3 linked regions of the Homo sapiens genome follow. The protein of the gene in region 2 purifies or fractionates together with the protein of the main gene of each other region. This does not show direct contact. Each region holds a gene or a part of one and is shown on either strand. Other genes may lie near its edges. The genes, in order: AP3B2, AP3M2 and AP3S2.

Region 1 (3,654 bases), on a different chromosome or scaffold from region 2:
TGATCAGCTCCGCAGGCCCCTCTGACCCCAGGCCTCACCACGGCCCCCGGGAGCTGCAGGAATCGCTGCATCAGGTTCTTCTCCAGGAATGGACTGAGCTGGCCAGGGCGCTGGGGCTCCTGTCACAGTCACCAGATGGCCCGCCCCCAAAACTTGGTAACCGGACACTGGCAGGGAGGGATGCTCCGGTTTCCTCTTCACTGCTCAGAGACAAGGCCTCTAGAGGGAAAGAAGGGCAGGGACAGGAGACCAAGCCTACCCCTAGTCTCTGGGCAAGGGACTAGATGGTCAGTGGAGTTGATAGAGAGGTGAGAGATGCCCTCTTCAGCTCCAATCCCACTGCCACAATTAGACTGCAGCCTCCTGAGAAATCTCATATACCCTCTTCTCACTGACCCTAGGCATCTTAATCCTCACCTGCCTTTCCAGAGCCAATACTTGATTTATTCCTTCCCATCAACCTTCTCTTATCTCTACTTCCTCCTAGCACCCTCCCCCGCAACCCCTGTGTCTATCCCTCCAACTGCTCTCACATCCTTGGCCCTCTTGTCCCACTGGTCTCCAATGCCACTGGCCTGCCAGTGGTGGGTGGCTTTTTTTTTTTTTTTTTTCAGATGGAGTTTCACTCTTATTGCCCAGGCTGGAGTGTAATGGCGTGATCTCGGCTCACTGCAACCTCCGTCTCCTGGGTTCAAGCAATTCTCCTGCCTCAGCCTCCCAAGTAGCTGGGATTACAGGCATACACCACCACACCTGGCTAATTTTTGTATTTTTAGTAGAGACGGGGTTTCTCCATGTTGGTCAGGCTGGTCTCAAACTCCCAACCTTAGGTGATATGCCTGCCTCAGCCTCCCAAAGTGCTAGGATTACAGGCGTGAGCCACCGCGCCTGGCCTGGTTGGCTTTCTTCATTGTATTTGAAACCCCTTTGACCCTCAAGTCCCCATTCCCAGCCTTGCCCTTATGGCTTCACCACCTGGTTCCCGAAAAAGGGAAAGTCTTTAGATGAAATCCCCTGCAGCCCCCTGCCCCAGACTCCCATCCATCTGCATTTATTTACTTATTTATTTATTTAGAGATGGAGTCTCACTCCGTTGCCCAGGCTGGAGTGCAGTGGTGCCATCTCGGCTCACTGTAATCTCCACCTCCCGGGTTCATGTGATTCTCCTGCCTCAGCCTCCTGAGTAGCTGGGATTATAGACATGCGTTACCACAACTGGCTAATTTTTGTATTTTTAGTAGAGACGGGGTTTTGACATGTTGGCCAGGTTAGTCTTGAACTCTTGATTTCAAGTGACCTGCCCGCCTCAGCCTCCCAAAGTGCTGGGATTACAGGCATGAGCCACTGTACCCAGTCTCCATCTGCATTTATACTCTCCTCTCCTCCTGCCCTCTTCCCTCTGGGCAGAGTTGGTCCTCCCTGCTCCCAGGCTAGTCCTCCCACCCAGCTCAGTAAGCCTCCCCTCCCATCACTCAGTGTTCTGTACTTCCTTTCTTCCCTTCAGCCTCTCTCCCACCAATCGCTCCTTCCCATCAGCAGTTAAACTTGCTCTAGGCTCTCCCGCCTAATATTAATAATAAACAAAAATATGGAGTCATACATTTTAAGAAACAAAAAAAAAAACCCAAAATAACAAAATAGACAAACTTCCTTGAACTGAGTGAGGTTCTCCTCCAGCAGCTTTCTCTTTTACAGTCAAATTTCTTGAAAGCAAAATTTCCATTCACTGTTTTATCTACTTACCACCTGTGTGCTCCTTTATTCATTTTAATCTGGCTTTAGATGTCGACTTAGAATGTGGGGTTGAAGGGTCATGATCTCTGCAACTTAACATGGTTCAACCAAAAAAAGTATACGAATAGATGGTTAGATAAAGCAAATAAGGTACGATGTCAATGACAGTTGAATCTAGATGGATGATATACATGTGTTCATTGTATTATTCATTTCATTTTTCTGTATGTTTTAAATCATCCACAACAGAATGCTGGGAAAGAAATAATCTAGCTCCTGTTCTCCTTACTTTGCCAGAATTTATCTCCCAGGGCAGGAGGTGGGGAATAGAGTAGAAAGGAATTGAGCTCTTCTTTGTCAACCAATGGTCATGATTTTTTTCCTTGTTTGATTTGACCTTAATGGGCATTGAAACTACTGACCACTCCCTCCTTCTTGAAATTACATTGTTTTCTTTCAGCCTTTAGTTCACCTCTTGGGTACCTTGAAACACTTTCCACTGTTCTCTGGTCACTTCTAATGTTGGTGTCTTCAGGGTTCAGACTTGTGCAGTGTCTGAACTCATTTTATACCTCCTCCCTGAGTTATCTTCACTTCTGTGGCTTTAATTAACATACATATGTTAATAATTCCCTAATCTCTCTCCTGGAACCCAAATCGTAATATCCAGCTACCTAATAGGGTAATATGTCCCTCAGAGTTTACAATCTCAATATGTCCAAAGCTGGGCTCAACATTAATTTTCCACAAATTTGCTTGTAACATCTTTATTTCCAATTACACTGAATAACACCATCATCCATCCAGTTGCAGGAACTAGTAACCTGAGTAACATCCTTGTCAGGCCTCTGAGCCCAAGCTAAACCATCATATCCCCTGTGACCTGCACGTATATATCCAGATGGCCTGAAGTAATTGAAGAATCACAAAAGAAGTGAAAATGGCCTGTTCCTGCCTTAACTGATGACATTACCTTGTGAAATTCCTTCTCCTGGCTCATCCTGGCTCAAAAGCTCCCCCACTGAGCACCTTGTGTCCCCCGCCCCTGCCCACCAAGGAACACCCCCCTTTGACTGTAATTGTCCACTACCTACCCAAATCCTATAAAATGGCCCCACCCCTATCTCCTTTCGTTGACTCTTTTTTCAGACTCAGCCGGCCTGCAACCAGGTGATTAAAAAGCTTTATTGCTCACACAAAGCCTGTTGGGTGGTCTCTTCACATGGACGTGCGTGAAATTTGGTGCCATGACTCGGATCGGGGGACCACCCTTGGAAGATCAATCCCCTGTCCTCCTGCTCTTTGCTTCATGATAAAGATCCACCTAATGACCTCGGGTCCTCAGACCAACCAGCCTGAGGAACATCTCACCAATTTTAAATCAGGTAAGCGGCCTCTTTTTACTCTCTTCTCCAACCTCTCTCACTATCCCTCAACCTCTTTCTCCTTTCAATCTTGGTGCCATCTTTCAATCTCTCCCTTCTCTTAATTTCGGTTCCTTTCCTTTTCTGGTAGAGACAGGAAATGCATTTTATCTGTGAACCCAAAACTCCGGCGCCGATCACGGACTCAGGAAGACAGTCTTCCCTTGGTGTTTAATCACTGCGGGGACGCCTGCTTGATTATTCACCCACGTTTCAGAGTTGTCTGATCACCGCGAGGATGCCTGCCTTGATCTTTCACCCTTAGTGGCAAACACCACTTTTTGGGGGGCAAGTACCCCCCACCCCTTCTCTCCATGTTTCTACCCTCTCTTTTCTCTCCACGTTCCTGGGGGACAAGCACCCCCGACTCCTTCTCTCTGTGTCTCTACCCTCTCTTTTCTCTCCACTTTCCTGGGGGGCAAAGCACCCCCCACCCCTTCTCTCCGTGTCTCTACCCTCTCTTTTCTCTGGGCTTGCCTCCTTCACTGTGGGCAAC
Region 2 (3,654 bases):
CTTAAGTGATCCTCTCACCTCAGCCTCCCAATAATTGGGACTATAGGCTCATACCATCATGACTGGCTTCTACAAATTCTGAAGCTCCAGGACTTCTAGTCATATTTACCTAATTCAGAACACATAGAAAAGGCAGCTCCCTGAATTTTGTGATTACAACTTTAGTTCTGCCATCAGAACTGGGAGCCAAATACTTTCGAGAAGGTAATTTAATCAATAAGAAATTAATTTGTTACTTTTTTTTTTTTTTTTTTTTTTTTTTTTGAGACAGGGTCTTGCTGTTGCCCAGGCTGGAGTGCAGTGTCATGATCAGGGCTTACTGCAACCTCAACTTCCCAAGCTCAAGCAATCCTCCTACCTCAGCCCCTCACAAAGTTAGGAATACAGGCATGCACAACTATGCTCAGGTAATTTTTTTCACTTTTTGTGGAGATGGGGTCTCACTATGTTGCTCAGGCTGGTCTTAAACTCCTGGGCTCAAGCAATCCTCCCGCCTCAGCTTTCCAAAGTGCTGGGATTACAGGCGTGAGTCACTACATCTGGCCTGTTACTTCTCTTTTTTATTCAAGAGGATAAGACCAATAAAGCAAGTAAACATATGAAATAAACCCTGGTCTGCATCATAATATTAACGTCCATTCCCAGTACCCAGCACAGTGCCTGGCACAAAGTAGGCACTAAATTGAAGTGGATGACCTTGAATGGGGGTTAATTCTGAAACTACAAGCATTATATGAAAGAGGTCCCTTTCTATTTTCATATTTCTGAGAACATATTAAAAGCACCTACCTGATTTATCAATAATTGCATCAATCTCTTCAATCACATCAAAATAGGCCTCATTGTTGGTATATTTCACCCCAGTCCGTCGCCAAGGCACCACTGACAGCTGCCCAGTGGGAAGCTGGTCACCCACATTCGTGCTTCCTGAGGCAATTAATATTACTGTATTTTAACACCATTTTGACTCTAGAAACCACAGAACACCTCCCTAGAAGTTTCTATGCTCCCACTATTCATGCACTCAATTGAAGAATTTTTCAAACAGAAGATGAGGTTTTTCCCAACTTCTATATGGGGTAACCTAGTCTATTTTTAAAACCCCTTGTTGCCATCTGGTCTGCCTTTTCAAACAGAATAAAGGTTTAAGAAAAAGTTACCTGAGAAACAGATATCATATTTTGGTTTTGAAAGTAACCTGAACTTAGTATCTCAGATGCAGCTTAAATAATGTATTGGCTTTCAGTAGAGTTCGTAATCTACATATTGATATAAAAATTTCATGGGTAAAAACAGTATTTGAGCCTGAGATAGGTTCTTAGGTACATTTATGGTAGGTACTAAAATGTACATATCAATATGATCTGTCTCATTCCCAAGTTCCAACACTGAAACTTAGGAAAAGAACACAAAGTTGATCTCTCCCTGTCTTTAAGAATTGTAGATCAATTCCTTCACTTGTTTTTTCCTTTACAGGCATAAACTTTTTTTAATTTAAAAGGTTTTATACTGACATAATAAAATACATTAATTTAAATTCTATTTCCTTCTTCCATTACCTGGATCCTTTTATTTTCTGTCTTTAAACAAAATTTTTTTTAGATAGAGTCTCGCTCTATCGCCCAGGCTGGAGTACAGTGGTGCAGTCTTGGCTTACTGCAACCTCTGCCTTCCGGGTTCAAACAATTCTCCTGCCTCAGCCTCCCGAGTAGCTGGGACTACAGGCGCGTGCCACCACATCCGGCTAATTTTTGTATTTTTAGTAGAGACGGGGTTTCACTATGTTGGCCAGGCTGGTCTTGAACTCCTGACCTAATGATCCACCCAACTCGGCCTCCCAAAGTGCTGGGATTACAGATGTGAGCCACCATGCCCACCTAAAAAATTTTTTTAAGAGATAGGGTTTTCCTATGTTGCCCATGCTGGAGTTCAGTGGCTATTCACAGGCACAATCATAACTCACTGCAGCCTCGACCTCCTGGGCTCAAGTGATCCTCCCACCTTAGCCTTCAGAGTAGCTGGGACCACAGGCATGCACCACCATGCTTGGCTAATTTTTGTATTTTTTGTAAAGACAGGGTTTCATCAAGTTGCCCAGGCTGATTTCGAACTCCTGTGCATGAGTGATCCTCCCGCCTCAGCCTCCTAAAGTATTGGATACAGGCATGAGCCAATATGTCAGGCCCATTTCAACTTTTCAAAAGTGGTTCTTAGATACCCTTTTCTAGATTAAAGTGAGATACAGGCTTAACTCACTTCATAATATTCGTAAATGATTCAGGCACTAACAAAGCTTTTAAGGCTTAAAATGAACTCAGAATATTGAAGAAACCACCAAATTTGTTTCCTTAAAAAGAGGAACTATGTATTAAAATGTATCATCAAGATATAATAATCAAAGCAGTCTAGGGAAAAGGCAGGAAAGCCTAAAAACAGACCAAGAATCCATAATGACAGGACAAGATAGAAATGTCATTCTAAAACAGGGGAAAAGGATAAATTACACAATGGTGCTAGGAAAACTCTTGAAGAAATAAACATTATTGCACACCAAGATAATTTTCAAATGGATTAAATAATTAAATCCAAAAATAAAATCACAAACTAGACTTTTAAAAAAGATCTTCCCTTCTCTGAGATCAAAAAGACATTCTCCTGTTTTTGTCTAATAATTATAAAGTCTGTGTTTAACTCCTTAACCTAGCTAGACTTTATTTTGTGTATAGTGTGAAGTGGAGGGACTTAATTTTTTCCATATTGAAGCTGACTGCCCTAATACAATATAGTTAACAACCAGCCCCTGGTCCACTGATTTGATAAATGACCACATCTATCTACACCAAATTCCTATAAAAGCAAGGGTCTGTTTCTGGACTATTTTATCCCAATGACCTATCTGTCTGTTACAGACAAATACCAAATTTTAAAAACTACCCAAACTTCATACAGATTGAGTAATCTTTACCTGAAATGTTCAGGACCAGAAATGTTTCAAATTTTGTATTTTTTTAAATTTTGGAATATCTGGATTATACCAGTTGCGCATCCCAAATTCAAAAATCTGAAATCCTCCAATGAGCATTTCCTTTGAGTGTCATGTCAGTATCCAAAAAGTTTTGGATTGTAGAGCATTCTGGATTTTGGATTTGGGATGTTAAACCTGTAATATATCTGATATCTGGTAGGACACATTTTATCTTTCCTCTTTTTAAAAATATTATTTTCAAAACTCTCTTGGGTCTTGTAGGATGTCTACTGTATGAATATTTGTCTTGTGTACTATACAAACTTAACGTGTCGTGATATTTGACAGGGCAAATCCTCCCAACAACCCCTTTGTAATTCTTTTCCAAAACTGTCCTGGCTATTCTTGCAATATTTATACTTTTAAAATGTATTTTTCAATCAGTTTATAAAATTCCATGAAAATGCTTGCTTATGCATTAAACAAGACCCAAAATGTAAAACCTTAATGAAAAGAATGATTAATTTGATTAAATCAAAACATTTAAAATGTGGCTAAACACCACCAGAACAAAGCTAAATCACAAGTGATAGACTGTAAGAAAATATCTGTAATGCAGTAATCAAAAGACATAAAGATCTCCCATAAAAGAGATTTTAAATCCACATGAAAAAAGAAATACATTTCAA
Region 3 (3,654 bases), on a different chromosome or scaffold from region 2:
TTCACCTTCATTTCTGTAACAGTATTTTTCCTTTCACTTCTTTCCTCAGTTCTGCCAGTATGCAGCTTGTCTTCTCTTCTCGTCTCCCTACCTCTGCTAAAGTTCTTGTATTTCTGCTTTGAGCTCTCATTTCATAGAGACAACTATTTTATCAAGTTTTCTTTTTTTCTTTGTGTAAAATATTTTATTACCATTGTATCTAGTCCATGGAGGCCCTTTTCCAGTCTGTGGTCTTAGTCTGCCATTTGGTTTTCCTATTTCTTTCCTAATTTTTTCTCGTTGTATATTTATATAGATCCTGTTTAGATTTTTTGTATACTTATCTTTAAATAGGCAAGTTTTTCAGGGACCAGCTGTTTTGCAGGATGTTTGTTGGAGGAGCTACCAAAACTCTGTTCTGGGCTAGCTACAGTTGTTCCCTTGATTTAGGGTTCTGGGTGAGTCCGTTTACCCTTAGTCTCTAGCCAGCCAATCGAGATAGGCAAGGCGTCTCTTAGCATCTCCACAATGCAAAGGATGTCTTCTCTACTACCACAGACACCACCTCTGTGAGGCAAATGTAGCTTGCGTGATTTCTCATTTAGCCTCAACTTCAGGTCCAAGGAAGTTCCTGCCTTCCAAAAACAAGGAATTAATTTGGTGCTGGAGTGTGTCCTTTACCCACAGGAAGTACATATTTTTGCAGATCTTTCTGAGATCACCAGCTTCCCTGTCCTCTCCCTGTAGCATCCTTTCTTCTTTTTCTTCTGTGAAGCAAAGGAGTCCCTGCCTGAGCTCCCTGCTTTTGACAGCTTTTTCACCTGTTTGGGGGTTTGGAATTTTGGATATCCTGTAGTTATAACAAAAATGGAGTTTGCATTTTTATTTCTTCTTTTTGCATTTGGAACATATTTTGAACAGCATTTGAAAATGCTGACTTTATGATGCAGTGTTAAATAAGAAGTTTTAACTGACTTTTTCTGTTAACCAGCCACTAGTCTCCACGACATCATGTGTTAGGCCTTTTACTATACCTTCTCCAGAAAGCCCCCACCACCACACTGTTGTCTATCTTCGAAGTCCCTAAAGCCCAAGGAATATGCTACTTAGATATATGGAAAGCCTTTCATTCATTTAGCATGCCTACTCTGAGCGTTGTTCTAGGCCTTGGAGATAAAGCATGGAAGAATTAATACAAGATATTGACACACCAAAGACAAGTCTTAAATGATTTCATGTGGACTAGGGGTCAGGGATGAATAGAGTGGAAGACATAGTTTGGGATTCTGAGGAAGTATGATATAAAGGGTAGAACATGAGCTCCGGAATCAGCACCATTCTGCTGCTAATATACATGACATTGGGATCATTTTATTGCCTTTTCCTCATATATAAAATGTATCAATTTCTTCATATATAAAGTGAAGTCAGGCCAGGCGTGGTGGCTCACGCCTGTAATCTCAGCACTTTGGGAGGCCAAGGCAGGGGGATCATCTGAGGTCAGGAGTTCCAGACCAGCCTGGCCAACATGAGGAAACCCCGACTCTACTAAAAATATAAAAATTAGCTGGGCATGGTGGCGGGTGCCTGTAATCCCAGCTACTCAGGAGGCTGAGTTGGGAGAATCGCTTGAACCCAGGAGGCGGAGGTTGCAGTGAGCCAAGTTCACACCACTGTACTCCAGCCTGGGTGACAGAGTGAGACTCAGCCTCAAATAATAATAGTAATAATAATAATAAAGTGAAGATTATATTACCTACCTTAGATGAATGTTGTAAAATTAAGGTAAGTTACATAAAGTACTTGGTTCATAATAGATACTCAACAAGTACTACTTTCTACCCACACAGGGATTGGCTAAATAAAAGGAATAAATACTGAAAGTGCAGGTATAGAGGACTATTTCTCTCCTTTTTTGTTAAATTGTGGTAAAATATGTAACATATAGTTTCCTGTCTTCACCATTTTTAAGCTTACAGTTCTGTGGCATTAAGTATATCCACATTGTTGTGCAGTCGCCACCACCATCCGTCTCCAGAGCTCTTCATCTTGCAAAACAGCACCTCTGTACACATTAAACAATAGCCACCACTGTCCTCTTCCCCCTGCCTCATGGCAGCCCCCGTTCCAGTTTCTGTCTCTGAATTTGACTACTCTGGGTACCTCACAGGAGTGGAATCACACAGTCCTCATCCTTTTGTGTGTGGGTTGTTTCACTTATAGTATCTTCAAGGTTCATCCGTGTTACATTGTGTCTCAGAATTCCCTTCCCTTTTACAGCATCTCAATTCAGATGAAAAAAAAAAAAAGAATTCTTTTCCTTTTTAAGGCTGAATAATATTCTGTTGTATTTCTATGGCACATTTTGTTGATCCAGTCGTCTGTTCATGGACACTTGGGCTGCTTCCACCTTTTGGCTGTTGTGAATAATACTGCTATGAACATGGGTGTACACATTCTCTTCAAGTCTTTACTTTCAGTTCTTTTGAGTGTATATCCAAAAGTGGAATTGCTGGGCCATATGGTAATTCTGTTTTTAATCTTTTTGAGGAACCACCATACTGTTTTCAGAGGCCTATTTCTTGATGGGGAAGTATAAACAGTGGAATTCCCCCAGGGAATAATTTTAAAACCAGTCTTGTTTAACATTTTGTAAATTATCTAAATATGAGACTTTTACCATTAAATCTTCATTTGCATATAGCTAATGAATAATTCATATTGTATAAAATGTAAGAACACCTCGTGAGAGTGTGTGTGTGCGTGTGTGTAGACAGAACAGTGGTTAATAAAGCTCAATGTGGGCACACACGCAAGGGAATACATTTGATTTATTATACTCTGTCCTCAAGATCAGAAGTTCCCTGCACTTACTGAGGGCAAAATACAGGGAGCCAATGCCAGAGAACTTCAGATGTCAGAAGTGCACAGTGCCCAGATATGCAGACACATCTTTCTTCTTGACTCTGCATTGCTGACAGAGTAAACTGGTGGTTGACTCTAGACTCTGGACCAGTGGTTCTCAGCTGGGGTGAATTTGCCCCCTGGAACACATATGACAATTCTGGAGACATTTTTGATTGTCAAGCTGGAGGAGTAGAGACCAGGGATGCTAGAGAACAGGCCACAGTGACAGGACAGCCCCACAGCAGAGGATTATCTGGTCCCAGATGTCACTAGTACCTAGGCTGAGAAGCCCTGCTCCAGACCCAAATTACCTTCTCAGCCTTGTCTTAGCCTCTCTCCTGCATAAAGAAAGTTGCCATCCCAGCCAGACCCAGGAGCTCCCCATACCTGCCCATACACCAGCTGAATTGCTCCTTCCAACATCTTCTACCTGAAATTCTTTCCCCTACCTCTCTAATGTCAGAGCCCAGCTTCCATCCTCCCACTGTCTCTGTGAAGCTCTCTGATCTCTCTAGCCACTGTACCCTTTCTTCTCTGACTTCCCCAGGACTATCCCAGTCATTTGGCACTTAGTTAACAATAGAAGGTTGTACTTGCTGTCTTCCCAACTTGACCGAAAGCACCTTGAGGGCCATTTGATGTGATTTGGTTTGAAATATGGAGTACCATTCCTTATGAACCACAGTGGGCATCTCTGCTTTGACCCACCCAGGGCTTTCTGTGACAGCTTTCCTACCACAAAGGGGTACAGTAGTTGAGTCACCTCCG

The links.
Region 1: the proteins of AP3M2 (region 2) and AP3B2 fractionate together in Homo sapiens (co-fractionation; one large-scale study listed by BioGRID). This does not show direct contact.
Region 3: the proteins of AP3M2 (region 2) and AP3S2 purify together in Homo sapiens (affinity purification with mass spectrometry; 2 studies listed by BioGRID and IntAct, with this or other methods). This does not show direct contact.

The regions. Positions count from the first base shown.
Region 1 is NC_000015.10:82,699,805-82,703,458, forward strand, and holds part of AP3B2 (AP-3 complex subunit beta-2), read right to left. Parts: intron 1-3,654.
Region 2 is NC_000008.11:42,159,554-42,163,207, reverse strand, and holds part of AP3M2 (AP-3 complex subunit mu-2), read right to left. Parts: intron 928-3,654; coding exon 790-927; intron 1-789. UniProt on the Homo sapiens protein: Part of the AP-3 complex, an adaptor-related complex which is not clathrin-associated. The complex is associated with the Golgi region as well as more peripheral structures.
Region 3 is NC_000015.10:89,838,483-89,842,136, reverse strand, and holds part of AP3S2 (AP-3 complex subunit sigma-2), read left to right. Parts: intron 1-2,792; exon of another isoform or gene 2,793-3,654. UniProt on the Homo sapiens protein: Part of the AP-3 complex, an adaptor-related complex which is not clathrin-associated. The complex is associated with the Golgi region as well as more peripheral structures.